Linked DNA regions of Homo sapiens. The protein of the gene in region 1 purifies or fractionates together with the protein of each later gene. This does not show direct contact. Each region holds a gene or a part of one and is shown on either strand. Other genes may lie near its edges.

What was found.
Region 2: the proteins of STX5 (region 1) and VAMP4 purify together in Homo sapiens (affinity purification with mass spectrometry; 3 studies listed by BioGRID and IntAct, with this or other methods). This does not show direct contact.
Region 3: the proteins of STX5 (region 1) and TNPO3 purify together in Homo sapiens (affinity purification with mass spectrometry; 3 studies listed by BioGRID and IntAct, with this or other methods). This does not show direct contact.
Region 4: the proteins of STX5 (region 1) and BET1 purify together in Homo sapiens (affinity purification with mass spectrometry; 3 studies listed by BioGRID and IntAct, with this or other methods). This does not show direct contact.
Region 5: the proteins of STX5 (region 1) and SNAP29 purify together in Homo sapiens (affinity purification with mass spectrometry; 4 studies listed by BioGRID and IntAct, with this or other methods). This does not show direct contact.
Region 6: the proteins of STX5 (region 1) and YKT6 purify together in Homo sapiens (affinity purification with mass spectrometry; 3 studies listed by BioGRID and IntAct, with this or other methods). This does not show direct contact.
Region 7: the proteins of STX5 (region 1) and SRPRB purify together in Homo sapiens (affinity purification with mass spectrometry; 3 studies listed by BioGRID and IntAct, with this or other methods). This does not show direct contact.

The regions. Positions count from the first base shown.
Region 1 is NC_000011.10:62,825,552-62,829,051, forward strand, and holds part of STX5 (syntaxin-5), read right to left. Parts: intron 2,081-3,500; coding exon 2,010-2,080; intron 1,848-2,009; coding exon 1,792-1,847; intron 1,675-1,791; coding exon 1,604-1,674; intron 1-1,603. UniProt on the Homo sapiens protein: Mediates endoplasmic reticulum to Golgi transport.
Region 2 is NC_000001.11:171,721,566-171,725,065, forward strand, and holds part of VAMP4 (vesicle-associated membrane protein 4), read right to left. Parts: intron 1-3,500. UniProt on the Homo sapiens protein: Involved in the pathway that functions to remove an inhibitor (probably synaptotagmin-4) of calcium-triggered exocytosis during the maturation of secretory granules.
Region 3 is NC_000007.14:129,048,612-129,052,111, reverse strand, and holds part of TNPO3 (transportin-3), read left to right. Parts: intron 1-3,500. UniProt on the Homo sapiens protein: Importin, which transports target proteins into the nucleus. Specifically mediates the nuclear import of splicing factor serine/arginine (SR) proteins, such as RBM4, SFRS1 and SFRS2, by recognizing phosphorylated SR domains.
Region 4 is NC_000007.14:93,994,356-93,997,855, reverse strand, and holds part of BET1 (BET1 homolog), read left to right. Parts: intron 1-1,534; coding exon 1,535-1,591; intron 1,592-3,470; coding exon 3,471-3,500. UniProt on the Homo sapiens protein: Required for vesicular transport from the ER to the Golgi complex. Functions as a SNARE involved in the docking process of ER-derived vesicles with the cis-Golgi membrane.
Region 5 is NC_000022.11:20,872,507-20,876,006, reverse strand, and holds part of SNAP29 (synaptosomal-associated protein 29), read right to left. Parts: intron 1-3,500. UniProt on the Homo sapiens protein: SNAREs, soluble N-ethylmaleimide-sensitive factor-attachment protein receptors, are essential proteins for fusion of cellular membranes.
Region 6 is NC_000007.14:44,199,731-44,203,777, reverse strand, and holds the start of YKT6 (synaptobrevin homolog YKT6), read right to left. Parts: upstream 2,801-4,047; 5' UTR 2,643-2,800; coding exon 2,539-2,642; intron 1-2,538. UniProt on the Homo sapiens protein: Vesicular soluble NSF attachment protein receptor (v-SNARE) mediating vesicle docking and fusion to a specific acceptor cellular compartment. Functions in endoplasmic reticulum to Golgi transport; as part of a SNARE complex composed of GOSR1, GOSR2 and STX5.
Region 7 is NC_000003.12:133,808,815-133,812,314, forward strand, and holds part of SRPRB (signal recognition particle receptor subunit beta), read left to right. Parts: intron 1-2,302; coding exon 2,303-2,385; intron 2,386-3,500. UniProt on the Homo sapiens protein: Component of the signal recognition particle (SRP) complex receptor (SR). Ensures, in conjunction with the SRP complex, the correct targeting of the nascent secretory proteins to the endoplasmic reticulum membrane system.

The DNA.
Region 1 (3,500 bases):
TCCAAGGAAAAACAAAGTATTAGCCAAGGAGTCCTTAGTCAGCATCTCTCACGATGGCCATCTCTGGTAGGAAGGACAAGGTGGAAGTTACTAGCCAGAGTGAGAGTATCTCAGACAGTCAGACCAGATGGGCCTGCTAGGATTTTCCAAGGTCTAGTGTTTGCTCTGGCTCAGTCCCTGCAGAGAAGAGCTACAAAGAGGCAAAATAGGCCTTCATCCATTGTAAATAACTTGTTTACTCCTCCAGCCTACTGCCCTGCTCCATTCTGTGAGGCCATGCTCTTGGCCACAGAACCCTTTCAAAGGCCAAAATCTCGGGTCTAGGGCATGACCAACAAAGCCCCCGGACAGTACTCAGGAAAAGGGAAGAGTCAAAGGCACTGTAGTTTCGAGAGGCATCAACAGAACTATTTTCATACACACAATTCCTCAATGGCTAATGTCTGTAAACCCACCACTTTGAGAGGCCAAGGCAGGCAGATCATGAGGTCAAGAGATTGAGACCATCCTGGCCAACATGGTGAAATGCCATCTCTACTAAAAATACCAAAAATTAGCTGGGTGTGGTGGCGCGCGCCTATAATCCCAGCTACTTGGGATGCTGAGGCAAAAGAATCGTTTTGAACCTGGGAGGTGGAGGTTGCAGTGAGCCTAGATCGCGCCACTGCACTCCAGCCTGGCGACAGAGTGAGACTCCGTCTTAAAAAAAAAAAAAGTTATTATTGGCCTGGCGCGGTGGCTCACGCCTGTAATCCCATCACTTTGGGAGGCTGAGGTGGGCGGATCACCTGAGGTCAGGAGTTTGAGACCAGCCTGACCAACGTGGAGAAACCCTGTCTCTACTAAAAATACAAAATTAGCCGGGCGCGGTGGCACGTGCCTGTAATCCCAGCTATTCGGGAGGCTGAGGCAGGGGAGTCACTTGAACCCAGGAGACAGAGGTTGCAGTGAGCTGAGATCGCGCCACTGTGCTCCAGCCTGAGCAACAAGAGTGAAACTCTGTCTCAAAAAATAATAATAAATAAATAAATAAATAAAATAAAAGTTATTATTACAGTCGAGTGCAGTGGCTCACACCTGTAATCCCAGCACTTTGGGAGGCCAAGGTGGGCGGCTCACTTGAGGTCAGGAGTTCGAGACCAGCCTGGCATACCCCGTCTCTACTAAAGATAAAACAATTAGCCAGTCATTGGTAGCGGGTGCCTATAGTCCCAGCTACTGGGGAGGCTGAGGCAGGAGAATCGCTTGCACCTGGGAGGTGGAGGTTGCAGTGAGCCAAGATCGCACCACTGCACTCCGGCCTGGGTGAAAGAGCAAAACTCTGCCTCAAAAAAAAAAAAAAAAAAAAAATTATCCAGGAATGAGGGCATGTCCCTGTAGTCTCTACCACTCAGGAGGCTCAGGCTGGAGGAAAGCTTGAGGCCAGGAGTTAAGGGCTGCAGTGAGCTAGGTCACACCACTACACTCCAGACTGGTCAACACAGTGAGACCCCCCTCTCTAAAAAAAGAAACTTGCTCTGGGTCCCCATGGCAATGGAAAATGACAGGAAGACAGAAGTGATCTGATTGGAATGCTGGGCTCTCCTGATGGCTAGTAGCTCACCTGTTTGATGATATATGTTAGCTCTTCAATTTCCACTGCTTTATCATCAAAGAGGGACTTGCGCTTTGCCACTACAGAGACAAACAAGAAGCCACAATGGGTGAGGTCAAGGACAAAGCTCAGGGAATATAGTCCTCAACCCTCTTTGATTTACTGCCCCACTTCTGAAAGACCCCAAGAACACTCACAGATTGTCAGCTTCTCCAGCTTGGCAAATGTGTTGCTAAGGTCTTTCCCAATGCGCCTGCAAATGACCACTAGTCAGACTGTGGGAAAGGGCAGGACGCCTTTTCCCACATAAGCTCCAGCATAACCAATCCCAGACTTCACAGCCAAGGCCACTGATTGCAAGTCTACTTTTCTTCAGACACTGTATCACCCCACCAGAAAGCTTCTCTCAACTCACTTGGCCATGAGGGTGAATTCACTGCGTTGTCGGACAGCACGCAAAGCTGGCTTATTTGTCTGGATTCCATTCTGAAAAGCAATGGCAGGAGGTGACAACTTTAGTTCTCCCTTCCCCAGTTCCAGCTTTCACTCTTCCTGAGGTGTCCACTAACCTATCTCTAGTGCTGGTGGCATCCATCAGATGATCTAGATTTATGAGTGGTAGTCGTTTAGAGTCCAGATTTGAAGAGCAGGTAGACCTGAGTTCAAATCTTGACTCACCACTTACTACTAGCTGGTGGATTTGGGGCGAGTTACTTAAAACATTCTAAATCTCTACTTTCTCTTCTATAAAATGAAGACAATCCACACATCTCCTATTGTTGCTAAGGTTAAATAACAAAAAGGCTGAAAAGTACTTCAGTCAACTACCTGGTACATAGTAAGCACTAAATAAATGGTATCTAGTATTGCCATTCTATTCCTCAAATCAGGAAATCAATAAGGATGATTGCAAAGCTCTTGGAGATCATACAGAAGAGCAGCTTTACCATGAGCTGAAAAACACTTCTTTATAACTTTTCTGTTTTTGAGACAGGGTCTCACTCTGTCTCCCAGGTTGGAATATAGTAGCATGATCATAACTTACTGCGGCCTCGACATCCTGGGCTCAAGTGATCCTCCAACTTCAGCCTCCCAAGTAGCTGGGACTACAGGGCACACCACCACACCTAGCTAATTTTTAACTTTTTGTAGAGATAGGGTCTTGCTATATTGCCCAGGCTGGTCTTGAACTCCTAGGCTCACGCAATCCTCCCACCTCAGCCTCCCAAAGTGCTGGGATTACAGGTGCCAGCCAGCATGTCCAGCCATCAGTAAAAATATTTAAAAATACAGTTACTCGGCCGGGTGCAGTGGCTCACGCCTGTAATCCCAGCACTTTGGAAAGCTGAGGCAGGCGGATCACGAGGTCAAGAGATTGAGACCAACCTGGCTAACATGGTGAAACCCCATCTCTACTAAAAATACAAAAATTTAGCCAGGTGTGGTGGCATGCACCTGTAGTCCCAGCTACTCAGCAGGCTGAGGCCGGAGAATCACTTGAACCTGGGAGGTGGAGGCTGCCGTGAGCCAAGATCCCACCACTGCACTCCAGCCTGGGTGACAGAGCGAGACTCCGTCTCAAAATAAATAAATAAATAAATAAACAAACAAACAAACAAATAAATAAATACAGTTACTTGGCCAGGTGCAGTGGCTCACACCTGTAATCCCAGCATTTTGGGAGGCCGAGGCAAGCAGATCACGAGGTCAAGAGACAGAGACCATCCTGGCGAACACAGTGAAACCCCGTCTCTACTAAAAATACAAAAATTAGCTGGGTGTCCTGGCACCGCCTGTATTCCCAGCTACTTGGGAGGCTGAGGCAGGAGAATCACTTAAACCCAGAGGTGGAGGCTGCAGTGAACCCAGATCACGTCACTGCACTCCAGCCTGGCAACAAAGAGAG
Region 2 (3,500 bases), on another chromosome or scaffold:
GAAAATCAATGTGCAAAAATCACAAGCATTCCTATACACCAATAACAGACAAACAGAAAGCCAAATCATGAGTGAACTCCCATTCACAATTGCTTCAAAGAGAATAAAATACCTAGGCATCCAACTTACAATGGATGTGAAGGACCTCTTCAAGGAGAACTACAAACCACTGCTCAACGAAATAAAAGAGGACACAAACAAATGGAAGAACATTCCATGCTCATGGATAGGAAGAATCAATATTGTGAAAATGGCCATACTGCCCAAGGTAATTTATAGATTCAGTGCCATCCCCATCAAGCTACCAATGACTTTCTTCACAGAATTGGAAAAAACTACTTTAAAGTTCATATGGAACCAAAAAAGAGCCCACATTGCCAAGACAATCCTAAGCCAAAAGAACAAAGTTGGAGGCGTCACGCTACCTGACTTCAAACTATACTACAAGGCTACAGTAACCAAAACAGCATGGTACTGGTACCAAAACAGAGATATAGACCAATGGAACAGAATAGTGCCCTCAGAAATAATACCAGACATCTACAACCATCTGATCTTTGACAAACCTGACAAAAACAAGAAATAGGGAAAGGAATCCCTATTTAATAAATGGTGCTGGGAAAACTGGCTAGCCATATGTAGAAAGCTGAAACTGGATCCCTTCCTTACACCTTATACAAAAATTAATTCAAGATGGATTAAAGACTTAAATGTTAAACCTAAAACCATAAAAACCCTAGAAGAAAACCTAGGCAATATCATTCAGGACATAGGCATGGGCAAGGATTTCATGAATAAAACACCAAAAGCAATGTCAACAAAAGCCAAAATTGACAAATGGGATCTCATTAAACTAAAGAGCTTCTGCACAGCAAAAGAAACTACCATCAGAGTGAACAGGCAACCTACAGAATGGGAGAAAATTTTTACAATCTACCCATCTGACAAAGGGCTAGTATCCAGAATCTACAAAGAACGTAAAGAAATTTACAAGAAAAAATCAAACAACCCCATCAAAAAGTGGGCGAAGGATATGAACAGACACTTCTCAAAAGAAGACATTTATGCAGCCAACAGACACATGAAAAAATGCTCATCATCACTGACCATCAGAGAAATGCAAATCAAAACCACAATAAGATACCATCTCACACCAGTTAGAATGGCGATCATTAAAAAGTCAGGAAACAACAGGTGCTGGAGAGGATGTGGAGAAACAGGAACGCTTTTACACTGTTGATGGGAGTGTAAACTAGTTCAACCATTGTGGAAGTCAGTGTGCGATTCCTCAGGGATCTAGAACTAGAAATACCATTTGACCCAGCCATCCCATTACTGGGCATATACCCAAAGGATTATATCAAGGGAACCACCCCCGATAATTCAACATAGGACCTTTTCTATTTTCCCTAAGTGTCGGCTGGTCTGAGTAATAAAGGGAAAGACTACAAAAGAGAGAAATTTTAAAACTGTGTGTCTGGGGGAGACATCACGTGTCGGCAGGTTCTGTGATGCCCCCCTACGCCGCAAAACCAGCAAGATTTTGTTGTGATTTTCAAAGGGGAGGGAGTGTACTAATAGGGTGTGGATTATAGAGATCACATGCTTCACAAGGCAATAAAATATCACAAGGCAAATGGGGGCAGAGCAAGATCACACGACTGGGGCAAAATTAAAATTGCTAATGAAGTTTCGGGCACGCACTGTCATTGATAACATCTTATCAGGAGACAGGGTTTGAGAGCAGACAACTGGTCTGACTAAAATTTACTGGGCAGGAATTTCCTCGTTCTAATAGGCCTGGGAGACCAGGGCTTATTTCATCCCTTATCTGCAACATATAAGACACACATTCCCAGAGCAGCCATTTTAGAAACCTCCCCTAGGAATGCATTCTCTTTCTCAGGACTGTTCCTTGCTGAGAAAAAGAATTCAGTGATATTTCTCCTATTTGCTTTTGTAAGAAGAGAAATATGGCTCTGTTCTGCCCAGCTTTCAGGCAGTCAGACCTAATGGTTATCTCCCTTGTTCCCTGAACATCGCTGTTATCCTGTTCTTTTTTCAAGGTGACCAGATTTCATATTGTTTAAACACACATGCTTTACAAACAATTTGTGCAGTTAATGCAATCATCACAGGGTCCTGAGGCGACATACATCCTCAGCTTACGAAGATGACGGGATTAAGAGATTAAAGTAAAGACAGGCACAGGAAATCACAAGAGTATTGACTGGGGAAGTGATAAATGTCCATGAAATCTTCACAATTTATGTTCAGAGATTGCAATAAAGACAGGTGTAAGAAATTATAAAAGTATTAAATTGGGGAACCAATAAATGTCCATGAAATCTTCACAATTTATGCTCTTCTGCCATGGCTTCAGCCAGTCCCTCCATTCGGGGTCGCTGACTTCCCACAACGGATTATAAATCATGCTGCTATAAAGACACATGCACACATATGTTTATTGTGGCACTATTCACAATAGCAAAGACTTGGAACCAACCCAAATGTCCATCAGTGACAGACTGGATTAAGAAAATGTGGCACATATACACCATGGAATACTACGCAGCCATAAAAAAGGATGAGTTCATGTCCTTTGTAGGGACATGGATGAAGCTGGAAACCATCATTCTGAGCAAACTATCGCAAAGACAGACAACCAAACACCGCATGTTCTCACTCATAGGTGGGAACTGAACAATGAGAACACTTGGACACAGGGTGGGGAACATCACACACCGGGTCCTGTCATGGGGTGGGGGGAGGGAGGAGGGATAGCATTAGGAGATATATCTAATGTAAATGATGAGTTAACTGGTGCAGCACACCAACATGGCACATGCATACATATGTAACAAACCTGCACACTGTGCACATGTACCCTAGAACTTAAAGTATAATAATAAAAAATAAAAGAAAATACTTAAGGATCAATTTGACAAAGAAAAAAATACAACATCTGGACACTGAAAACTACAAAACACTGCTGAGAGAAATTAAGTACCCAAATAAATAAAAAGATATACTATGCTCATGGGTCAGAAAACCAAATATTGTTAAGATGTTAATTATCCCCAAATTCATCTATAGGTTCAATATAATCTCAACCAAAATTCTAGCAGGCTTGCTGGAAACTGACAAGATGATTCTAAAATTTATATGAAAATGCTTAGAGCCTCCAATAGCCAAAAGAACTTTCAAAAGGCAGTGCAAAGTTGAAGGATATACACTACACTACCTCACAACTTACTATAAAGTCGTAGTACTCAGGATAGTGATTACTATGGTATTGATGTAAGAAAGACACATAGAGTCCAGAAATAGAGCCACACATATATAGTCAATAAATTTTTATTGTGGTAAATATATATAACATATATTTACTATTTTAACCGTTTTTAAGCATACAGTTCTGTGGCATTAAGTAATTCACTTAATGAACTGTCATCACCATTCATCTCTAGAACTTTTTCATCTTTCAAAACTGAAACTCT
Region 3 (3,500 bases), on another chromosome or scaffold:
GGAAAATATCCAGCAGTAACACATCACGTTTAGGCAACTTCAGCATCTGGATTGACAGTTCAGCTAACACTTTGGCCTTCTGATTCCTTTACCTCTTCATTCTCTTTAGCCACCTGGTCACACAATCACACCCTGGATCTTGTCTTTACTAAAAAGCCACCACCCAGGCTGGGCGTGCAGTGGCTCACGCCTGTAATCCCAACACTTTGGGAGGCTGAGGCGGGCGGATCGCTTGAGGTCAGGGGTTTGAGACCAGCCTGGCCAACATGGTGAAAACCCGTTTCTACTAAAAATACAAAAATTAGCTGGGCGTGGTGGTGCGCACCTGTAGTCTCTGCTACTCAGGAGGCTGAGGCAGGAGAATCTCTTGAACCCAGGAGGTGGAGGTTGCAGTGAGCTGATATTGTGTCACTGCACTCCAGCCTGGGCGACAGAGCGCGACTCCATTTCAAAAAAAACAAAAAAGTTGCCAGCCAGGCCAGGCCCATTGGCTCTTGCCTGTAATCCCAGCACTTTGGGAGTCCAAGGTGGAGGATCCCTTGAGCCCAGGAGTTCAAGACCAGCCTGGGCAACATAGCGAGACCTCATTTCTACAAAAAAATAGGAAAATTAGTTGGGTGTGGTGACATTTGCCTATAGTCCCAGCTACTCAGGAGGATCCCTTGAGCCCAGGAGTTCAAGACTGAGTGAGCTATGATTTCGCTACTGCACTCTAGCCTGGGAAACAGCAAGATTGTACAAAAAAAAAAAAAAAGTCACCACACCTCCAAATCACTGATTCAGACATTCTGCTGTGATCATAACCCACTGTTTTCCAGTTTGCTGGCTCAAAAATATCAAATAATGTCACCTAGTTTTTTTTGAAATCTTTATGTAGTTTTACTAATATTTAAGTTTTATTTTTAAAACAAAATTTTGTGGAACCTTTTTTTTCCTGTTGGTAATCAAATACCTCTTTTTTTTTTTAACATTTTGTTTTCTGGGTATCCACAATAAGTCACCCTCAAATCTCAGTACTGTAAATATCCTCATTGTTCAGACTGGTGATTTGTTTTCTTTTTTGGCTAAAGGAAATATGTATCCCAAGAGCCCTCCATTTCCCTGCTCCAGTCTGGCCTGGTTCGCTAGGTCTGTTGGATAATTACTGTCATGGGATTCCATAAACACTGTCCTAGGGAATTCCCTTTGCCTCTTTGTTGTGCTGGATCCACTGATTCTTGGATTCCATGATGTTTTCTTGGGTTACTCTTCCATTTAATGGATCATCGAGAAGGGAACCTTCATCCTTTCTCTCATTGCTTTTCTGTTGGTCTGTTTTTCTTGGGCTGCTTTTACCTTGAGTTCTCTAGTCAGCCTGGGGGTTATAAGCTAGACTGCCAGTGTTCTAAAGCCAGTTCAGGGAATGAAGCCAGGGGATGGATCTCACAACTAAGTATGTAGGTTTTAATTTAATCTCTTGTTTTTCAGCATGATACTCCTGTCTTTAGCTGAGTCTGTTGTCTAAGAGTCCAGAGACCACCTACTTCAATCTTTCCACAGTAAACCTTGAGTCTTCTGTTATGGTGGGAGAGTAGTAGCCTGGTTGCTCAGAGTCAGAGAGGAAATTTAGGAGTCTACTGCTTCTTACACAGATTTTGACCCTTTTATTTATTTAAACTTTTTTCTTTTTTTGTTTTAAGGCTGCATTACTAGCCGATTCCCCCCCCACCCTTTTTTTTTTTTTTTTTTTTGAGACAGAGTCTCGCTGTCTCCCAGGCTGGAGTGCAGTGGCGCCATCTCAGCTCACTGCAAGCTCCGCCTCCCGGGTTCACGCCATTCTCCTGCCTCAGCCTCCAGAGTAGCTGGGACTACAGGTGCTTGCCACCATGCCCAGCTAATTTTTTGTATTTTTTAGTAGAGACAAGGTTTCACCATGTTAGCCAGGATGGTCTCGGTCTCCTGACCTTGTGATCTGCCCACCTTGGCCTCCCAAAGTGCTGGGATTACAGGCATGAGTGACTGCGCCCAGCCCACCCCACCTCACCCTTTTTAAAAAAAGAAAAAAAAGAAAAGAAAAGTTGGGGTCTCGCTATATTGCCCAGGTTGGACCCGAACTCTTGGTCTCAGGCAATCCTCTCTCCTCAGTCTCCTGAGTAGCTGAAATTACAGGTGCACACCACCACATCCAGCTCCACTCCTTTATTTTTTGTTCCGCCTGTGCATCTGCCTTCAGATGTACCTGTGCTTCCAATTCCCCAGTCTTCCTGGGTTTTGCAACATGAATAGTTTGTCCCTTGCCTTCCCTATTCTCGTCTCATCCTCCCTCCCCACCCCCAGGCAAATATCAGCCTTTTCGGATCTGCTAAGACAGTTAACACTGTCCTTTAGCTTTCCAGTTTCCACAGTTCTATTGATATCTGTCACCTGTTTCCATTTTCTTTGTCTTTATGTGTTTTTGCCTTTTTTAAAAAAGATCTTTACTCTGATTTTTATTGGATTTTTGGAAGGACCTGAAAGCAGACAGCTGTGTTCAATCAGTTAGTTTAGTCATTTTAAACAGAAGTCCCTGCATTAGTTCTTGAATTTTATCAAAACCTCAGTTCATTGACTGTTCCTTACTTCTTCTTTATTAGGTCTTCTTGTTTTTACTTCTCTCCTTACCAAATGTGGATTCCAAGATCTATCATTCTAGTCATTTTATAAATACACCATCACCTTTCCCCTCCAATTTGGTCAGACTTCAGCATGGTTGTATGCAGCTGCTTCTCCTCTTGTCAGATCTAGGTGCTTTGCATCTCTCAATCTTCTGAAATTTCTGGGACCTTGATCTTTTGGTTTATCCTATGTCTTGTCTGCATCTTTAGACTCCTTTACTGAGTCTTTCCCATCAGCATCCAAATAGCTGAAATATTTCTCATAGTACACAAATATTTTGGGGTAGAGTGGATGCCGCCTTTGCCCAACTTTACTTTCTTCTCTGCTTTTACCCTTTCCCAACCCTTTCTTCAAATGCAGAAACTAACTCATCTTTTGAAAGCCCAACCTAAATTCTGCTTTCTCCTTCAAGGCTTACCTGCTTCTCTTCAGCCAAAAGTGATTTCAGCCCCCAATGAATGCCTAGAGAACTTTACTTCATTGTGTTTGCCTTTTTATAAACCTTTTTGAAAATAAGTGTTTTGCCTCCCCTACTAGACTGGGATTCTTGTCACATTTGTTTATGTAGTCCAATACCCATAGTTGAAGAAATAAACCATGGTTATTAAGATAAACAATCAAGACACTTCACACACAGGTTCTTAAAAATGTTGATTGTCAGAAGTGCATACATGCAGATACTCAGTTGGATAACTCACATTTTTCTTTATCTGCGAGTTTTATTTATTTTTGCTGTCACTTTTCACCATATACATGGTTAAAAATAAACAATATTCAGCACCTTTAATGCTCTTCAGTCTTTCCAGTCTTTTTTTTTCTTTCTTTTTTTTTTTTAAATCCTTTATGAGATGTATATGTTGCCCTCA
Region 4 (3,500 bases), on another chromosome or scaffold:
ACCAGAATGCAGGTTTTCTATTGTACTTACTTTATATTCTATATAGCACTTAGCATAATTCCTTATCAATGGTGTTGAGTAAATTTGTATTGAACCAAAGAATTACACGAAGATGATTTTAATAATATATGTGATTGATACTGCATTATAATGAACATGACGTTCACTTATAAAGCATTCAGTAGAAGCCCATGTTGATAAAACTTAATTGGTATTTCAATATAGTCTTTGGAAAATCGAATTACATTCAGTCTGGAGACCTTTAGATTTTGAAACAGGATTGTTTTCAAAGTCATATTAAACTAAAGTTGATTTATGAACTAAGTAATATTGTATAATGTTAATTTTAAAAATACAACACTTGGAAGGACTTAAGAATTAAATGCCTTTAAAAACCCCCCCAATGTAGATAATTTAGATTACTTGTTAGAAGAAAGTTGTGATGTCCTGGAAATATTTTTCCTTGGCATGAATGACAGTGATAGAAGTTGAGTAATGTGGGCAGTCTAGCTTTATAGTTACTTTATTATCTCTGAGTTGTTAAATCTGGGAGGAAAGCTCATGTTCTGATCTATAGAATTCTAGTATGGTTTTGTATCAGTATTATCCCATGTGCTTTCACACAGATGAAGAACAATATTTGCAGTGATTTACCAAGATTTTCAGTAGATGATTCTATTTATTTAAATATCTTGGAAGTGAAGCCTTTGATGAATCTGTCCTATAAAGTATTAGATAGATTTTGGTTTGAATAGTTGTCATAATTAGCTATAGTATTGTATTTTGTAAGCTATGGCTCTTTTCTTCAGAGCTTCAGGAAGTAAGTAACACTAATATTTATTTTTTTCAATTTATTATCATATTTTAAAGCAAAAACCTTTAAACTAAGGAAAAATCAGTTTAGACATATTTAAAGTAATGTAACATTTCATTAGGAAAATATTAAATACTTCTGTCTAGATTTGAATTGGTTGTATGGGTACTTCTAGATCTTTCAAAATGTAATAAGGTTGGGTACTAGGCTTAATTCTTGGTTGACGAAATAATCCGTACAACAAATCCATGTGACATGAGTTTAACTGTATAACAAACCTTCACCTGTACCCCCAAACCTAAAATAAGTTAAAATATATATATATAATTTATAAAATATAATAAATAAAATGTAAGAAGGAAATATACAGATATTTGTAGGAATTTGTAGCTTTTGTAGGAATATAATAAAGATATAAAAGCATACAAGGTTAAGAGAATCAGAGAGAAGTAGTACATACCAAATTAAAAGATGGAATTGAATATTAAGATGAAATTAAAATAAAGAGGAAAGAAGAAATGTCCATAATTGGGAGGAGTAGAAATTCCAAATTTATTTTTTATTGATCTTGGTAGAAAAAGTATCAGAAAAAGAGAGTTTATGTGTCTAGAAGACCGTTTCATTTCAGAAAATGTGTATGCTTAGAATGACATTATTTTTACTTTATAACACTTGAATACTTTTATGTGAGTAATCCTGTGTATACCTTCTTCTTTATAGCTTTCCATTGAAATAGGCCATGAAGTTAAAACCCAGAATAAATTATTAGCTGAAATGGTAAGTGGTTATGATTTTAACTTTAAGAAATTTGATCTAATATTCGCAAATAATAGAATTTCAACTTTTATTCATTTTGAAATACAGAGATCGTAAGTCCTTGATTCCCGTCCATTTGTATCTAATGTGTTTGGAATAACTATAAGGTTTATTTTGCCATGCTTTTGCATTTTTCATCTCGTCTTACGCATGTAAGTGGGAGGAACAAGTGGAAGCCAATATATCTTTAATCCTGTTTTTAGAATGATTGTTAAAAACAAGACAAATGACTATTTTGAGTAGTCTTAGAAGTCTCAATAGTAGAGACTACTAGTAATTTATTAACCAAGCAATCAAAAGGCACTTGATATCCAACCAACTAAATGTCGTTCACTTAATGGATACTTACTCTTTTGCTTGATTTCCTAAGGATCACTTATGAAAAAAGTGCTCATACATTTGAACAGCCCAGAGCCTTTTCTCTCTAACAACATATACCTTTTCTTGTTAGAGTCCCCTTCCATTTGTTAACGTTTATCTTGAATGTCAAGCTTCTCTGAACCTTCTCTGGTTCCATGTGCTTTTAAAATTGTGCTATTCAAAAATGAATTTGGCATCAAAAGCAATGTTCTTGCTAAGCTTGTGCGCTATAATAAGCTAGGGACCTCTTTAAAAATGTATATGCCTGATTCTGTCTTTAAATATACTGATTTAGAATTTCGTGAGGAGGGATCTAGATGTAAATATTTTGAAAAAAGCATCTCTGGTGATTCTGATGCATAACCATGAAAAAGCATCTCCGGTGATTCTGATGCATAACCATGGTGAAGATCCATAGATCTAAAGTATATGAGCCACATAGACACTGAGCTATACAAAGGATATTTATTATTATGCCAGGGCTTTTACATCTCAGGATATTATAATTTCTATGAAAGTATGTGTAATATTTCTAGTCCCTACCTAAGCCTCTCTCATCTTTAGGATTTTCCAGCTATGTTTTAATACGTTAGTTTTTCCCCATCCATATTTATAGTCCTTATCACATTTTACTACCTCTATATGATATTCTCTTAACTTAATAGACTCTACTTCAAAGTCAGCTGTCTAAACAAAAGGATATTAAAAGTAAAGGTCCAAGGCCTAGCATGGTAGCTCACGCCTATACTCCCAACATTTTGGGAGGATGAGGTGGGCGGATTACCTGAGGTCAGTAGTTCAAGACCACCCTGGCCAACATGGTGAAACCCCATCTCTACTAAAAATACAAAAAAATTAGCTGGGCGTGGTGGCGTGCGCCTGTAGTCCCAGCTACTTGGGAGGCTGAGGCAGGAGAATCACTTGAACCTGGGAGGCAGAGATTGCAGTGAGCTGAGATTGCACCACTGCACTCCAGCCTGGGCAACGAGCGAGACTCCGTCTCTAAATAAATAAATAAGTAAATAAAAGTACATTTAACTGCTAACCGTATTACATTTTGGATGAAATCCTCTACTTGGGTAGCAGTCAACCATTTGACCTTGGAGAGCAATGGCACAACAAAAAGTGGGGAAAAAAATCTGTGTGATAATGCACAAAGTACTTACATTTATTGTTAATTTTTTTTATCCACATAATTGGAATAACACCTAAATAGTTTTGAGTTGTTGAATTACTCTGTGGAGCTGAAAGAAGTGTTTATTGGACAATGAAAGAGCTTTTTATTCGCTGAGAGTATTACTGTATTTTGCATGGAGAAATCAGGCTGATTATCCAAGGTTATCAACAGGCTCCTGAATTGATTAAACACAAAACTGTCATTACAAATGTACTATGGTAACAGTTATTCAATTACTTGGATATGCATATGTAGACTCTTAGAATCTAACTGTGATATTTTATTTGCCTTTATCTCTGATAGGATTCACAATTTGATTCCACAACTGGATTT
Region 5 (3,500 bases), on another chromosome or scaffold:
TGTATTTTTAGTAGAGACGGGGTTTCACCGTGTTAGCTAGGATGGTCTCGATCTCCTGACCTCGTGATCCGCCCACCTTAGCCTCCCAAAAGTGCTGGGATTACAGGCGTGAGCCACTGCACCCAGCCGCCCCCCCATTTTTTTTTTTGGTCGTCCATGTAAATATGACTACAGGCCTGTATCACCATGCCCAGCTTTAAAAATTTTTTATGTTTGTAGAGACAGAATCTTGCTATGTTGCCCAGGCTGATCTTCAACTCCTGGCCCCAAGTGATTGTCCTGCCTTGGCCTTATAAAATGTTGGGATAACAGGCATGAGCCACTGTGTCTGGCCCTGCTGGGCCCTTGAAATGGCCAACAACTTCCTTCATCCCGGCTTCCCCTGTGCTTTTACTGCCATGTGCCTGCACCAACCCCTCCTTCAATTGGTGGGTTCCCTCAAAACCTTCACCTTCTGCAAAAAGTCAGGTCCTTTGTGCAGCCTTCCTCTGTTCCCAGGGCCAACCTCCCTCTCCTCTGGGTCCCCACTGCATCCCTGTGGACTGTCTGCCTCCCCCATATCTTCCAACAGACAGACTGCATTCCTGCAGCTTCTGCTCCCACAGAACTGCAGAGTGTGGGTGAAAGTTTTGCTTTCTTGAATTTACTAAGAGATGGCAAGAATGCTACAACTGATTGGGGCTAATCTAGGGGCAGGCCAGGCAGGGTACATGACTTTGGGGACCTTGACGGGAACGCATCAGCTTTAAGTGGAAATGAGAACAAGCAGCTTGGAAAGCTGTCAGCAAGGACAAACAGGACTTCCCAAGAGACAAAGCCCACCTCACTGAAATAACTATGGCTGCCTCACTGATGGAAGCCTTTGCTGGGAAGCCCCTGAGTTTTCATGATGCTCCAAAAAAAGAAAACTGCCCCTGGAGCCACAGGACTTCCATGGCTTTCATAGCTATGTTCAGGGATGCAGGGGCCTCCAAGAGCCCCAGAAGCAGCCTTTGTGAAGAGGTATGTAGGATGTGGAAGGGTGTGAAAGGGTGCTAGTCACAAACTTGCCAGCTTCCCACTCCTCCAAGGGCTCACTCTGCTCCTGAGTTTGTACATGGAGGATGTCTTAGACCAAAACAAATGAACATCCTACCTTCTCCTATGGCAATTAAATGTGGCCAAAGATTAGGATATAAAACATCTTTCTGATATGTATATTGAAAAAAAAACAACAAAAAACAAGCAACGACTAGAACTGGAGGGAAATGGCGGATGTTTAAAATTAGGGTTGAGCTGGAGAACCCAGAATGGTGATTATGGCTGAGCCAAAAAAACCAACCAACCCTCATAACCTTAGCTAGTGCCTCCCCAGGGCACTCACTGAGGCCGGCAGGTTCCCAGGGCCAACTCTGCAGGTCCCTCCTGCAGTACTTTTTTTTTTTTTTTTTTTGAGATAGGGTCTCACTCTGTCACCCAGGCTGGAGTAGACTGGTACAATCATAGCTCATTGTAGGCTCAACCTCCCTGGGTTCAGGTGATCCTCCCACCTAAGCCAAAAGGTCGGGTCCACCTCAGCCACCTCAGTAGCTGGGACCACAAGCACGTACCACCATGTCCGGCTAATTTTCGTGTGTGTGTGTGTGTGTGTGTGTGTGTGTGTGTGTGTGTGTGTGTGGCTAATTTTCGTGTGTGTGTGTGTGTGTGTGTCTGTGTGTGTCTGTGTGTGTCAGAGTCTTGCTCTGTCGCCCAGGCTGGAGTGCAGTGGCGTGATCTCAGCTCACTGTTGCAGTGGCGTGATCTCAGCTCACTGTAAGCTCCGCCTCCTGGGTTCACGCCATACACATTTCTCACCCTCCCGAGTAGCTGGGACCACAGGCGCCCGCCACCACACCCGGATAATATTTTGTATTTTTAGTAGAGACGGGGTTTCACCGTGTTAGCCAGGATGGTCTCAATCTCCTGACCTCGTGCTCCGTTGGCCTTGGCCTCCCAAAGTGCTGGGATTACAGGCGTGACTCACCATGCCCGGCCTTTTTTTTTTTTTTTTTTTTTTTTTTTTTGAGACAGAGTCTCACTGTTACCCAGGCTGAGGTGCAGTGGTGCAATCTCCGCTCACTACAACCTCTGCCTCCCAGGCTTAAGGGATTCTCCTCCTCAGCCTCCCAAGTAGCTGGGGCTACAGGCAGGCACCACCATGCCTGGCTGATTTTTGTATTTTTAGGAGACACTGGGTTTCACCATGTTGGCTGGCCTGGTCTCACACTCCTGACCTCAAACGATGCACCCGCCTCGGCCTCCCAAAGTGCTGGGATTACAGGCCTGAACCACCATGCCCAACTTCATTTTTGTGTTTTTCTGTAGAGACGGGGTTTTGTCATGTTGCTCAGGCTGGGATCAAGTGATCCTCCTGCCTCAGTCTCCCAAATTGCTGGGATTACAGGCATGAGCCACCATGCCTGAACCTCTCCATAACTCTTGATGGCTTCGCCTGCCTGTTCTTTCTGCCATCACCACCAGCTTTGTTACCTACACTGGTTTCTCCCCAGCCCCACTCTGAGTTTGAAGTAGTTATCTAATTTCCTCCCTGCCACACCCTACATCTTGATCTGGGTGGTGGCCACACTAGTGTACACAGGTTCACAGTCACTGGCTCTCCACTTAAGATGCACATATTTTACTGTACCTTAGTGATGCATTAAAAAAAACGGCTCTGCAGTTAGGTGTGGTGGCTCATGCCTGTAATCCTAGCACTTTGGGAGGCCGAGGTGGGAGGACTGCTTGAGGCCAGGAGTTCAAGACCAACCTGGCCAACACAGCAAGACCTCATCTCTTAAAAAATAAATAAATAAAATGAAAAAGAAAAGCTCCACATTACAGAATTAAAACAAAGAGAGAGGCCAGGTGTGGTGGCTCACGCCCATAATCCTAGCACTTTGGAAGGCTGAGGCGGGCGGATCATCTGAGATCAAGAGTTCGAGACTATCCTGGCCAACATGGAGAAACCCCATCTCTCCTAAAAATACAAAAATTAACCAGGCATGGTGACACATGCCTGTAATCCCAGCTACTCAGGAGGCTGAGGCAAGAGAATTGCTTGAACCTGGGAGACAGAGGTTTCAGTGAGCTGAGATGGTGCCACTGCACTCCAGCCTGGGCAACAGAGTGAGACTCTGTCTCAAAAAAAAAAAAAAAAAAAAAAAAAAAGCCTGGCGTGGTGGCTCGGCACTCTAGGAGGCTGAGGCAGGTGGATCACCTGAGGTCAGGAGTTTGAGACCAGACTGGCCAACATGGTGAAACCCCATCTCTACTAAAAATACAAAAATTAGGCCGGATGTGGTGGCTCACGCCTGTAATCCCAGCACTTTGGAAGGCGGAGGCGGATGGATCACGAAGTCAGGAGGTCGAGACCATCCTGGCTAACACGGTGAAACCCCGTCTCTACTAAAAATACAAAAAATTAGCCAGGCATGGTGGCAGGCGCCTGTAGTCCCAGCTACTCGGGAGGCTGAGGCAGGAGA
Region 6 (4,047 bases), on another chromosome or scaffold:
AGGTAACTGAAGGCCTGACTCTGGGCCTGTGTGCTGTGCCTCCACATTAAAAAAATCAAGATTTGTGCAACAGTTAAACGAGGTAATACGTGTAAAGCACTTGGAACAATGCCTGCACACACAGTATTACTTGTTAATATCTTGAGGGACTGAAGTGATCAAAATAACCCCTCAGAAAAGAAGACCTCAAACAAGGAAGGCTTTGCAGTAAACCTAGAGACAGCATTTGAGACACGGCTATAAAGAGACAAAGGAAGAACTGCATTGTGACAGCATGTATACAAAGACCAAAAAAGCTGGGAAACTACTTTTTCAACTTTGGAATCGGGTAATTATAGGGCACAAAGGACGTAAGTAAAGCGGTCTTATAAGAAAACAAGCTCAGGCCGGACGTGGTGGCTCAAGCCTGTAATCCTAGCACTTTGGGAGGCCAAGGCAGGCGGATCACTTGAGCTCAGGAGTTCGAGACCAGCCTGGCTAACATGGTAAAACCCCATCTCTACTAAAAATACAAAAATTAGCCGGGTGTGGTGGTGCGCGCCTGTAATCCCAGCTACTTGGGAGGCTGAGGCAGGAGAATCACTTGAACCCAGGAGGCGGAGGTTGCAGTGAGCTGACACTGTGCCACTGCACTCCAGCCTGGGTGACAGAGCAAGACTCCATCTAAAATAAAATAAATAAATAAATAAATCAGCTGGGACATGTGTTGTTTTAAGACATATTAGTAGAGATGTCCCTTTAGTGTTGCAGCTGTTAGTCATTGGAAACTAGTGTGGGCATCCCAAGCAGGTGAGGTATAAGTCCTACAAGTGAAATCTCTGAGAATCTTAAGTACTAATGGGAAGGAAAAAGGAAAAAGAATCAGAGCCAAGTTGGCACCAAAAGTTCCATCTGAGAAAAGCAACAACACAGAGCAGTGAATGTAGGCCATGGTAAAGACTGCAAAGACCAAGAACCCCAAGAAGGAGCTAAAAGATAATGCAGCAATTCCGCTTCTGGGTAAATACCAAAAAAATGCGAGCAGGGTCTTGAAGAGATATTTGTACATCCATGTTCATAGCAGTATCATTCACAATGGCTGAAATGTGGAAGCAACCCAGGTGTCCACTGACAGATGAACAGATAAGCAAAATGTGGTGAATAATACAATGGATTATTCAGCCTTAAAAAGGAAAGAAATTCTGATATATGCAACAAGATGCATGAGCCTTGAGGACATTATGCTACATGAAATAAGCCAGACACACAAAAACTATATGATTCCATTTATCTAAGGTCGCCAGAAAAGTCAAAATCACAGAGACAAATTAGAATGGCAGTTGCCATGGGCTGGGGGAGAAGGGAATGTGTTTAATAGACACGAATTTGATAAAAAGGAGTTCTGGAGACGATTGACAGTGATGGCTGCACAACACTATCAATCTATTTCATATCAATGCACTCACTACACGCTTAAAGATAGTGAAGATAAATTTTGTGTACCATTTTACCACAATTAAAAATATTTTTTTAAAAGAACTCAAAGAAGCAGAAAGTTTCAACAAAATAACATTTTTTTTTTTTTACATCCAGCAAGTCCTTGGCAAAGAACTCTCATCAAGAACCAGCTGCACTGAAGCAGGGAAAACAGAATCCAAACGGCAGATTCCATCAGATTTTGAGACAAGATGACCATAGATACCGACCATGTAGGGTCCTCCTTCTTTCGTGCCTGAGTCACCCCAATCCCTCCCACGAATGGTCTGGAAGTGTCTGTGTTACTTCTAACACGTTCCAGCAATTAAAGCGCCCCAGAAACAAGTAAAAGCCTGTAAGCCCTACAGATCCCATGCTTCATTTGCATCTTCCGTGTGGAATCCTTTTGTACCACTAGTGTCCAACTAAAAAGCGTTAAACCTGGCTTTCAGTTCTAGCTGGTTGTGATATAACCTCTTGGTACCTCAGTGACTTCACCCATTAAAAACAAACAAAAAAAAGTATATCACTATCTCTCATACAGAATTGTTGGGAAGCCCCGCAAGAAAATCAAAATATGGCTCTCAAGATGCGGCACCCAAGCTCCCAGAGTCAGAATCACTGGGTGGGAAGTGTTGGTCTAAAATATAAATACCGAGGCCTCAATCTACTAATTCAGAACATCTTGGCATGAAGCTTGGAAATCTGCACTACTTCACAGTCTCCTTAAAATTTTTACACGACAGAAATTTGAAAAACACTGAGTAGAGAACTATATTCTAGAATGGTATAAGCTCTTAAAGAGCTAATGTTGGTTCCTCAAAGGTAGAGTCCACGGCCAGATTCCATTATAGGAGACCAAGCCCGGACAGCAGACCCCGGGCCCTCCCCACCCCGCCCCGCCTCTGACTCGGACACCAGCCTTCTCAGACCCCGGGCACTCGGCCACCCCGCCCTGCCCCTACCCTTGGCCTCCTCCACCCTCCCCTCATCCCTCCGCCGACCCCAGGCCCACTCCGACTCGGACCCCCACCCCAGTCCTCTCCGCCCGACCGCCACGGCCCACCAGCCTGTGCCGCTCACCTGGATCTCTGGAAAAAGCTGAAGGAAGACACATCGTATGCGGCTTTGAGCAGCACCACCTTGGCCTCGCCTTTGTAGAGGACGCTGAGGCTGTACAGCTTCATGGCTCCGCGCCCTCAGGCCGCCCGCCTGCCCAGCTGCGGGACCCGTTCTCAGGGAGCAGCGCGGCCGCCGCCCCTCGGGACCGCCGCCGCCTACCGGCCTCTCAGCAGCCGGCTGCTGACGGGGCCACCGCCGGCTTCCTCCTCCTGGCTCGCAATCCACTTCCGGATCCGGTCAGCCTGGTTGAGGGTTCTCATACTCCGGATGCAGAAATGTGAGCCCGGAAGTACAATGCAGCGAGGGGCGGGATGCCACGCCTCGCGTAAGCTTGGCCCCTCCCTGCTCGCCAGGTGGAGTCGGGCGCGCGGCGGGATACCGTACTGTCTTGTGCTGGGTGGTGCTGGGCCTCCCACAGCGGCCTGAACCCTTCTTTTTTTTTTTTTTCTTTTCTTTCTTTTTTTAAAGTAAGCATTTTTTTTATTATTATACTTTAAGTTTTAGGGTACATGTGCACAACGTGCAGGTTTGTTACATATGTATACATGTGCCATGTTGGTGTGCTGCACCCATTAACTCGTCATTTAGCATTAAGTATATCTCCTAATGCTATCCCTCCCCCCTCCCCCCACCCCACAACAGTCCCCGGTGTGTGATGTTCGCCTTCCTGTGTCCATGTGTTCTTATTGTTCAATTCCCACCTATGAGTGAGAACATGCGGTGTTTGGTTTTTTGTCCTTGCAATAGTTTGCTGAGAATGATGGTTTCCAGCTTCATCCATGTCCCTACAAAGGACATGAACTCATCATTTTTTATGGCTGCATAGTATTCCATGGTGTATATGTGCCACATTTTAGGAGGAGCTTGTACCATTCCTTCTGAAACTATTCCAATCAAAAGAAAAAGAGAGAATCCTCCCTAACTCATTTTATGAGGCCAGCATCATCCTGATACCAAAGGGTGGCAGAGAGAGACACAACAAAAAAAGAATTTTAGACCAATATCCTTGATGAACATTGAAGCAAAAATCCTCAGTAAAATACTGGCAAACCGAATCCAGCAACACATCAAAAAGCTTATCCACCATGATCAAGTGGGCTTCATCCCTGGGATGCAAGGCTGGTTCAACATACGAAAATCAGTAAACGTAATCCAGCATATAAACAGAACCAAAGACAAAAACCACATGATTATCTCAATAGATGCAGAAAAGGCCTTTGACAAAATTCAACAACCCTCATGCTAAAAACTCTCAATAAATTAGGTATTGATGGGACGTATCTCAAAATAATAAGAGCTATCTATGACAAACCCACAGCCAATATCATACTGAATGGACAAAAACTGGAAGCATTCCCTTTGAAAACTGGCACAAGACTGGGATGCCCTCTCTCACCACTCCTTTTCAACATAGTGTTGGAAGTTCTGGCCAGGGCAATCAGGTAGGAGAAGGAAATAAAGGGTATTCAA
Region 7 (3,500 bases), on another chromosome or scaffold:
GGGAGGTGGAGGTGGCAGTGAGCCAAGATTGCGCCACTGCACTCCAGCCTGGGCAATAGAGCGAGACTAAGTCTCAAAAAAAAAAAAAAAATATAAGGAATCATGGGAAAGACATTTTACATACCTCTGTAACTTCAGAATGTAGACAGTGACTACCAAACCGATTGTAATGCATAAGTTTGTTTGTTTGTTTTTGAGACAGGAGTCTCACTCTGTTGCCCAGGCTGGAGTGCAGTGGCATGATCTTGGCTCACTGCAACCTCTGCCTCCCGAGTTGAAGCGATTCTCCTGCCTCAGCCTCCTGAGTAGCTGGGATTACAGGCGCCCACCACCATGCCTGGCTAATTTTTGTATTTTTAGTAGAGATGGGGTTTCACCATGTTGGCCAGGCTGGTCTTGAACTCCTGACCTCAAGTGATCCGCCCACCTCAGCTTCCCAAATTGCTGGGATTACAGGCGTGAGCCACTGCACCCAGCCATGTAATAAGTTTCGGTGAGTGAGTGGAGTGAGGGCTCGTTGGAGGATGTGGATGGATAGATGGATGAATTAGAATTGTGGTTTGAGACCTTTTCTTCTTCTCTTTGTCTTCTTTCCCCTTTCTCATGCCTCCAGAATTAAAGATTGTAAAGAAAAATAAAGGGACATGTTTTTAAATATCTTAGCGATATCTTTGTTTTTTTTTTCAATGATGACACTCTTTGTGGCCCAGACCTTTTTAAACTCCCAAGGATTCAGATTTTGAAATTCCAGGTTTGCAAGATCATCTAGTACCTGCACTAGATTTTTAACTTAGGATACTCCAGGATATGCTTTAAATCTGTACCTTCTAATATGTAGCCACTGGCCACATGTGACTGTTGAGCACCTAAACTAGGACTAGTCCAAATTGAGGCATGCTGTAAGTGTGAAGTACACACCAGATCTTGAAGACTTAGTATGGAAAAAAAGAACGTAAAGTATCATTAATAATTTCTTTTTTTATTACATTTTAAAAGATAATATTTTGGATATATTAGATTAAATAACTTAAAATTAATTTTACCAATTTCTTTTTACTTTTTTATTATGGTTACTGGAATATTTAAAATTACATATGTGGCTTCTGTTATTCTATATTTCTACTATATTTCTATTCTATCAATATTTCTACTGAATATATAGAGCATTTTTCCCTTCCCTCTTCACTCTTTCTCCTACCCCCTTACGTTTTCGATCTAATCTCTTTAGATAGTAATATACCTAGTAATGTATCTTCCAAATTGCTTAGGGTGTGTGGTATAGTGCTGCTTTTGAAATGGAGCAGTTAAGTCCCAACCTGGGATCTCCAGACTCTTAACAGTACTTAAAAAAAAAAGAGAGGGACTAATAAAAAACATATTTGTCTATAAAGAAATGCACAGGCTATGTGAAAGGTAAGGTCATAATAAACCCAGCTGGAATTGTGTTAAATCTGTGCAGGATACTGATTGCCTGCTTCTGAACTGTGGGTATGGTTGGCTGTGGATAATGTAGAACATGTAAGAAATGATGGTCTGCTGCATGTACCAGGCCACATCTAAGAGTCTTATTGTTGAGCACAGCCACGTTTACACTGAATATAAACTTTATTCACCATTCCAGGCCTTGACCTTATATTCAGGAATGGCAGCCTGGCATGGTGAATAGAACTTATTAGGGTGCATCGTAGATTTGCTCAGTAGGGGCTCAGGAATTGACACAAATGCTGACGGAGTTGGAACAAGTAAATTATATGTCTGGAAGATAAATATTTAAATAATTAGATTAAGGGTGGAAATGATAAAAGTGTACTTTGTTATAAAGATTGGAGATCCCAGTAAGAGTAATATGCTCTATGAAAAATTGTAAGTTCTTATATTACATTATTAGTTTATGAGTACTTGTTACTGTTTTCACATTTTTGCTTATACTCATACAGTACTCCTACTTTGCTATACTCACACTGGTTTATCTCCCAAGCCTCAGGTAGATCATGCTTCCCTGACTCCCCCAGACAGGTTTTTCCTGTACCCTCAAAACATTTATCAGTGTTCTCATTTTATATTTATGTGTAATTTTACATTATGTTCACCTTTCTCATAAATTTTGCCAGATCAGGAACCGTGTCTTTGGCCACTGTTACATCCCCAGAACGTTGACTAGTGTTTTATGAGTAGAAGATGCTTTGTGAACATTTGTTTGGTTAATTAGGTACCAGTTTGGTAGCCAATATATGATACTAAAGGTTTATATTGTGAACGTGGAACTGTATTGAAACGTTAATGTTATTGCTGCCATCCCCAGGGCAATAGTCTGACCTTGATTGACCTTCCCGGCCATGAGAGTTTGAGGCTTCAGTTCTTAGAGCGGTTTAAGTCTTCAGCCAGGTAAGAAGGAAAGAAGTGAAGTGGGCTTGTCTAGGTCTGTATCTGTATATCAAAGCCACTCATGTGATTTGCTCTGGTGGTGTTTGGGAGGCAGCATGGTATCCTGTGGTAGACCTTGAGGTGACCTTGGGGTCAGCCAGTTCTGGGTTGCAAGTCCACCTTCACCTGGATGATGAGGATTTTATGGGATTAAAATGCTTAAAAAGTGTTTTTTAGTGTTTAGGAAATGTTAACCCTTCTTGTCATTGTTACTAAATGTTTGCATTTATTCTGAAGGTGAATTTAATAATGTATATGACTATTAAAATCTGAAAAAAGAATTTTAAAGCTGGGATGAATCCTAGCAGTTTTTAAATGCCAACATCATTTATATATATAGTGTTTTTTTGTTTTTTTTTTTTGAGATGGAGTCTCACTCTGTTGTCCTGGCTGGAGTGCAGTGGTGTGATCTCGGCTCACTGCAACCTCCACCTCCTGGGTTCAAGTGATTCTCCTGCCTCAGCCTCCTGAGTAGCTGGGATTACAGGCACGCACCACCACACCCTGCTAATTTTTCATAATTTTAGTAGAGATGGGGTTTCACCATGTTGGCCAGGCTTGTCTCGAACTCCTGACCTCATGATCCGCTGGCCTCAGCCTCCCAAAGTGCTGGAATTACAGGCGTGAGCCACTGCACCTGGCCCATATATATTCTCAAATTACGTAAAATTGATGTTTCAAGAAGTACAGAACAATATTTCCATATTTCTTTTAGTGTGTGCTCTGGTGTTACTGACTCTTAAGTTCTTCCCTAAAAAGTCTTATGCTGCAGTTTCAGATGCTTCTTTTTTGGTCTCTAACATTAATAAGAACTGAAGAGGAAAATCAGTATGCCACATTTCACTGATTTGAAGACACATTTTAATATCTCTGAATTTAGAATATATCTTATAGTTGATGGTGTCATAGTTTAATTGGCAGTATTTTCTCTTAGCGGTCCCTAAAATAATGTCTTTAATTGGCAGCATTTTAGTTTTGATGGAATGAAGTAGTAGATTCTTTGCCTTTTATTGAAGATGTCTAGACTGAAATTTCATTATTGCATCTTTGCCCACAAGATGGTGGTGATGAACAAT